Linked DNA regions of Homo sapiens: region 1 is linked to region 2. The links come from fine-mapping of genetic effects on gene expression. A gene starts in region 2. The other region holds a variant in brackets. All regions are shown on one strand. Distances are between the middles of the regions. Region 1 overlaps TBCE (tubulin folding cofactor E). Region 2 holds the start of TBCE (tubulin folding cofactor E).

What was found. PIP is the estimated chance that this variant, and not a neighbour inherited with it, causes the effect.
Region 1: its variant is fine-mapped to the expression of TBCE in whole blood (TOPMed, PIP above 0.99).

Annotation. Positions count from the first base shown.
Region 1 is chr1:235,400,409-235,403,319 of GRCh38, forward strand. It overlaps TBCE (tubulin folding cofactor E), which reads left to right. Exons shown (of 17, transcript NM_003193.5): 3 at 1,095-1,179. Among named protein-coding and RNA genes, the nearest start is that of TBCE, 34 kb to the left of the region's middle. RefSeq lists an enhancer at 1-223. The variant G/T (reference allele first, on the strand shown) is at 1,201.
Region 2 is chr1:235,365,925-235,368,835 of GRCh38, forward strand. TBCE (tubulin folding cofactor E) reads left to right here and starts at 1,503. Exons shown (of 17, transcript NM_003193.5): 1 at 1,503-1,580. LOC124904559 (a long non-coding RNA gene) reads right to left here and starts at 1,496. Exons shown (of 2, transcript XR_007066957.1): 1 at 1,286-1,496; 2 at 429-699. RefSeq lists enhancers at 1,210-1,923, 1,463-1,802.

The sequences.
Region 1 (2,911 bases), 34 kb after region 2:
TTTTTTTTTTGAGATGGAGTCTCGCCCTGTCGCCTAGGCTGGGGTGCAGTGGCGTGATCTCGGCTCACTGCAACCTCCGCCTTCCGGGTTCACGCCGTTCTCCTGTCTCAGCCTCCGGAGTAGCTGGGGCTATAGGCGCTCGCCACCGTGCCTGGCTAATTTTTTGTATTTTTAGTAGAGACGGCGTTTCACTGTGTTAGCCAGGATGGTCTCGAACTCCTGACCTCGTGATCCGCCTGCCTCTGCCTCTCAAAGTGCTGGGGTTACAGGCGTGAGCCACTGTGCCCAGCCTTTTTTTTTTTTGAGACGGAATTTTGCTCTTGTTGCCCAGGCTGGAGTGCAGTGGCATGATCTCGGCTCACTGCAACCTCCGCCTCCCGGGTTCAAGTGATTCTCCTGCCTCAGCCTCCCGAGTAGCTGGGATTACTGTCATGTGTCACCACACCTGGCTAATTTTGTATTTTTAGTAGAGATGGGGTTTCTTCACGTTGGTCAGGCCAGTCTCGACCAGTCTCGAATTCCTGACCTCAGGTGATCCGCCCACTTTGGCCTTGCAAAGTGCTGGGACTACAGGCGTAAGCCACTGTGCCTGGGCTTTTTTTTTTTTTTTAATTTTTATTGTAGCCACATACATAACATAAAGTTTGCCATTTTAACCACTTTTCAATTTAACATTTTAAATTGTGGTGAAATATACGTAACATAAAATTTACCATCTGAACCAGTTTTGAATGTACAGTTTAGTAGTAACTACCCTAAGTATCTCATATAAGTGGAATATGGTATTTGTCCTTTTATGGTGGCTTATTTCTCTTAGTGTAATGTCCTCAAGGGTCAGTTTTGTTTAGTGTGCTCAATAAATTTTAGCCATTCTTGTTTTCTGGAGTGGTGGTTTTTGTTGGCTTTTTCACCCAGACATGCTATGGCATTTGCTGATTGAAGTCCTGAGTATAAGGCTAACTTGTCCATTCCCTCCTCCCCAAGTGGTATCTGTGTGATATGGTTTCCGCTGCAAATTGGTATTTGCTTGCAGAAAACTGGAGCATTGCCTGTATCATCATCTGTTACTCATTTGGTTTTTCTTGTTCTGCTAGGACCCTGGTTAGGAGTAGAATGGGACAATCCCGAGAGAGGAAAGCATGATGGGAGCCACGAAGGGACTGTGTATTTTAAATGCAGGTAACTTTTCATTATGAATCA[G/T]CACGGTCATTTAGTCAAGATTATATTTAATACTTGAATAAGGAGGGATGGAGAGGAAGAAATGTTTGGCTCATGGAGTAGTTATATTATGGAATTTGTTGTATTCCAAAAAGGCAGTTATTTTATTTGTGGCTTAATTGCTGCTGTTTGTAGCATTTTTCCCTTTTTTAAAAAAATTCTGACTCTTGACCTTATGCATGGCGTTGCTTTCTTCGTCCTTTTTTTTTTTTTTTTTTTTTTTAACAGTCCTTTAAATTGGATGAATGTAAACCTTTCTGGCTCATTACCAATTTACAATCCAGTAAGTAAATAATAGAAAAGAGAAACAGCCTAGATTTCCAGTAAGAAGGAATTGATTACACAAAATACAGAACATCTGAATAGTGGAATGTTGAGCCACCATTAAATAAATTTCTTATCATAGGAAGAGTTACATGTCACATTGCATTTCTTTGTCTTTTTTTTTTTTTTTTTGAGACGGAGTCTCACTCTGTCGCCCAGCTGGAGTGCAGTGGCACAATCTCAGCTCACTGCAACCTCCACCTCCTAGGTTCAAGCAATTCTCCTGCCTCAGCCTCCTGAGTAGCTGGGATTACAGGTGCCCACGACCACGCCTGGCTAATTTCTGTACTTTTAGTGGAGACGAGGTTTCACCATATTGGCCAGGCTGGTCCCGAACTCCTGACCTTGTGATCCGCCCGCCTCAGCCTCCCAAAATGCTGGGATTACAGGTGTGAGCCACCACGCCCGGCCTGTCACATTGCATTTCTATTATTATTTTTGATCGCCTGATGTCAGAAAAACTGCATGAAGCCCTGAAAAGGGTGCTGGGGAGCCTTCAGGCAGAGCCTGTCTTCTAAATTTTTGTTGTTGTTGTTGATTTTTATTAGTTTTCAATTTCTGAAAACGATCTTTCCCTAGTAAGCTGTTTTTCCTTAAGTATGGTACAGTGAACACAATACTGCCCTGGAAATCAGGGGGCCTCTAGCCTGTTTTTAACAGTCTTTTTTGTTTGTTTGGTTGGTTTATTTGTTTATTTTTTGAGACATTGTCTCGCCTAGACTGGAATGCAGTGGCATGATCATGACTCACTGTCACCCTGAACTCCTGGGCTCAAGTGATCTTCGCGCCTCAGTCTCCTGAGTAGCTGGGACTACAGGCGTGCACCAGCACACCCAGCTAATTTAAAAAAATAAAAATAAAAAAGAGATGAAGTTTTTCTATGCTGCCCAGGCTGGTCTCAAACTCCTGGCCTCAAGCGATCCTCCCACCTCGGCTTCTCAAAGTGCTGGGATTACAGATGTGAGCCACTGCACCAGCCCCACTTTTAACAGTCTTTATGGTCCTGAACAAGACAAGTTTACTAACCTTTAAAATGAAGGTCAGAATTAGGTAACCACACAGCATATCTCCTGGTCCACTATTTCATAATTTTAGAAAGTCAGGGTGTTCTTAAAAGGCCAACTCTACTTGTAGACTTGCCATCTCTGAATTTGTTCAGAGCTGTTCAGGTTATATGGTTAGGGAGAAATATTTTAGCCAGGCCCACAGATTCCTTAGGTACCTGGACCATGACCTTACAAACCCTCCAGTGAAAGGACTTTTTTCTTTTTTTTGAGATGTAGTCTCACTCTGTGGCCAAGGCTGGAGTGCAGTGGCGTGATCTTGGCTCACTGCAACCTCCACCTCCCTGGTTCAAGCAATTCCCCTG
Region 2 (2,911 bases):
GGCCTATTCATGGGCTTCAAAGGATTAATCAGTCCTTGAAATCATACGCAAAATTTGTGTGTAGGTAGATAGCTTTTATCAGATTTCCAATGTGGTTTTTAATCCCCTCTTCCAAAGAAAAAACAATCACTGTAATATCTAGTTTCTAGTTTCAAGGAGTGAACTATCAAAGTATAAAACAGTAGAGACATCCAGCAGGATACTGACTGTTTGTGTCCATTTAATATGACAATTAGAAGGTCACTTCTTGGAAGAGTCATTTGGCTTTGCTCCCTCAATTTCCTTTCCACTTCACCTCACTTCAGTCTGGTTTTGGAATGCTAACACTCACTCTACCCAAACTGCTCTTGTTGTGGAGTCTGTGGTATCCACCAATGGGTTCTTTCTGCCTGCTGCACAAACAAAATTAATTGACAGAAACCATGGCATTGCAGTAAAGAAAGTTTAATTGACGCGAGGCTGGCCATGCCACGTGGGAGACAGAGTTGTTACTCAAATCCATCTCACCAAAGGCTCAGAGGTTAGGGGGTTTTTCAGATAGTTTGACAGGTACGGGGCCAGGGAATGGGGAGTGCTGACTGGTTGGGTCAGAGGTGAAATCATAAGAAGTAGAAGCTGTCCTCTTGCACTGAGTTGGTTCGTGGATCCCCAGGTTGATGAGTCAGGGTGGGGCCATCCACTTGTCAGAAATGCAAAAACCTGAAAAGACATCTCAAAAGGCCAATCTTAGGTTCTACAACAGTGATGTTATCTGCAGGAATGATTGGGGAAGATGCGAATTTGTGACCTGTGGAATAATGGGTGGTAATCATTTAACTACAATTACAACTTAGAAGAATTCAGGACCCTCTCATTCTCCTAACTTGGTGGCCTTTCATTTAGTTTTAAAAGGGCAGTTTTGGGGAAGGGTTATTATCATTTAAACTATAAACTAAATTTCTCCCAAAGTTAGTTTGTCCTGTGCCCAGGAATGAGCAAAGACAGCCAGTCTGTGAGGCTAGAATCAAGATAGGAGTAAACCATGTCAGATTTCTCTTACTGTCAAAATTTTGCAAAGGCGGTTTCAACAGAAATTAACATGTCTAGGATAGTTGCTTTTTCTATTATTTTTTCTATCACTGCATTTACTTTCATTCTGCCTTATGCTTTAACTAGGTAATTTTTTTTTTTTTTTTAGTTTTGGCGGTATCAACACTATATTCTTCTCTTTGACCACCGCATGCTGCCTACGTGGTAGACTCTCAATACGCATGGAACTGAACCTCTTACAGGATTTGTAACTCACTTCTGTGGTATCTAGTAAACTGGAACACGCGCTTTCCCTGGGCTGCTCTGTCATCCCAGGTTTCAGCACTCGGAAATCGCTTGGGCCCCCGCCCAGAGGCGGGGCTTGGGTGGGCTGACCACTCCTCTGGCCTCCAATACTGTCGCTGACATTCTCGTCTATGCTCCAGCAGCCGTACCTCACTCCGGTGGAGGCGGGACTTCCTACAGCACTTCCGGCCAGAGCCTCAAGCTTCGCTGCTGGGCAGTTGGCTGGAGGGGCTGCTGCTGGGAACACCTGGAGTCTCCGCGGGCAGGTGAGCTTCAGAGGTTCGGGGAGCTTTCGGAACGAGCATTCCTGGCCGGTGCGTCACCCTGCAGTGCTCTTGGCCTTTTCTTCCTTTCCTGGAATCTTCCCAGATTGCCAGAGCCGGGCGTTGCCTGCTCCGTGCGCTGGGAGGCGGTCCAGCCGGCTGGGTTGGGGCCACCCTGCGCCTCCTGGAAGGCCTTATTTAGGAGTAGCCGCACGTGATCTCTAGCATTTTAAGCTTCTCTCAGAGAATTGGCATGTCACTTTGGAAGAGGTGAAAATGGTACAGGCGACCAACGACTTTTACAAGGTGTCACCTTAGAGGAACAGCCTCGTCCTTCCGAATCAGTTAACATTGGTGATGACAGAGAAATAACGTTAAATAGGTGGAGAGCACTTAAAGTAACTGTTTGTTCTTTTGAGACAGTCTTGCTCTGTCGCCCAGGCTGGACTGCAGTGGCGCGGATCTCTGATCTCGGCTTACTGCAACCTCCGCCTCCTGGGTTCAAGCGATTCTGCTGCCTCAGCCTCCCGAGTAGCTGGGATTACAGGCGCGTGCCACCACGCTCGGCTAATTTTTGTATTTTTAGTAGAGACAGGGTTTCTCCATGTTGGCCAGGCTGCTCTCGAACTCCTGATCTCAGATGATCCACCCGCCTCGGCCTCCCAAACTGCTGGGATTACAGGCGTGAGCCACCGCGCCCGGCCTAAAGTAACTATTTTTACTTGGTGTTTACTACCAAATGGGGACTGTTCTAAGTTGTGGGTGGATCCAAATGATGGTGTGACAGCCTTATCCTCAGAGAAGCAGTCCTGGCAGGAAGACGGGGTTAACAAATTGCCAAACTGTTAGAGAAAGTTAGTGGAGGTAGAGATGAAGAGAGAAGACTTTTCTTTTCTCTGGCATTAATTTAGCCACGGCCGCTGTGTTTTGATACTTGCTTCAAACGTTTTTCATATTCTTAAGTTTTAACTTTTCTGTATGCTCATATTTTATATACTGTTGTAAACAGCATATCTCTGGGTTTTTTTTTTAATCTAAGTGGACAGCCTGCTTTTTTTTTTTTTTTTTTTTTTTGATATGGAGTCTTGCTCTGTCGCCCAAGGCTGGTGTGCAGTGGCCCAATCTCAGCTCACTGCAACCACGCCTCCCAGGTTCAAGCATATCTCCCACCTCAGCCTCCCGAGTAGTTGGGATGACAGGTGTGTGCCACCATGCCCAGCTAATTTTTTTTTTTTTGTATTTGTAGTAGAGATGGGGTTTCGCCATGTTGGCCAGACTGGTTTTGAAGGCCTGACTTCAGGTGATCCACCTGCTTCAGCCTCCCAAAGTGCTGG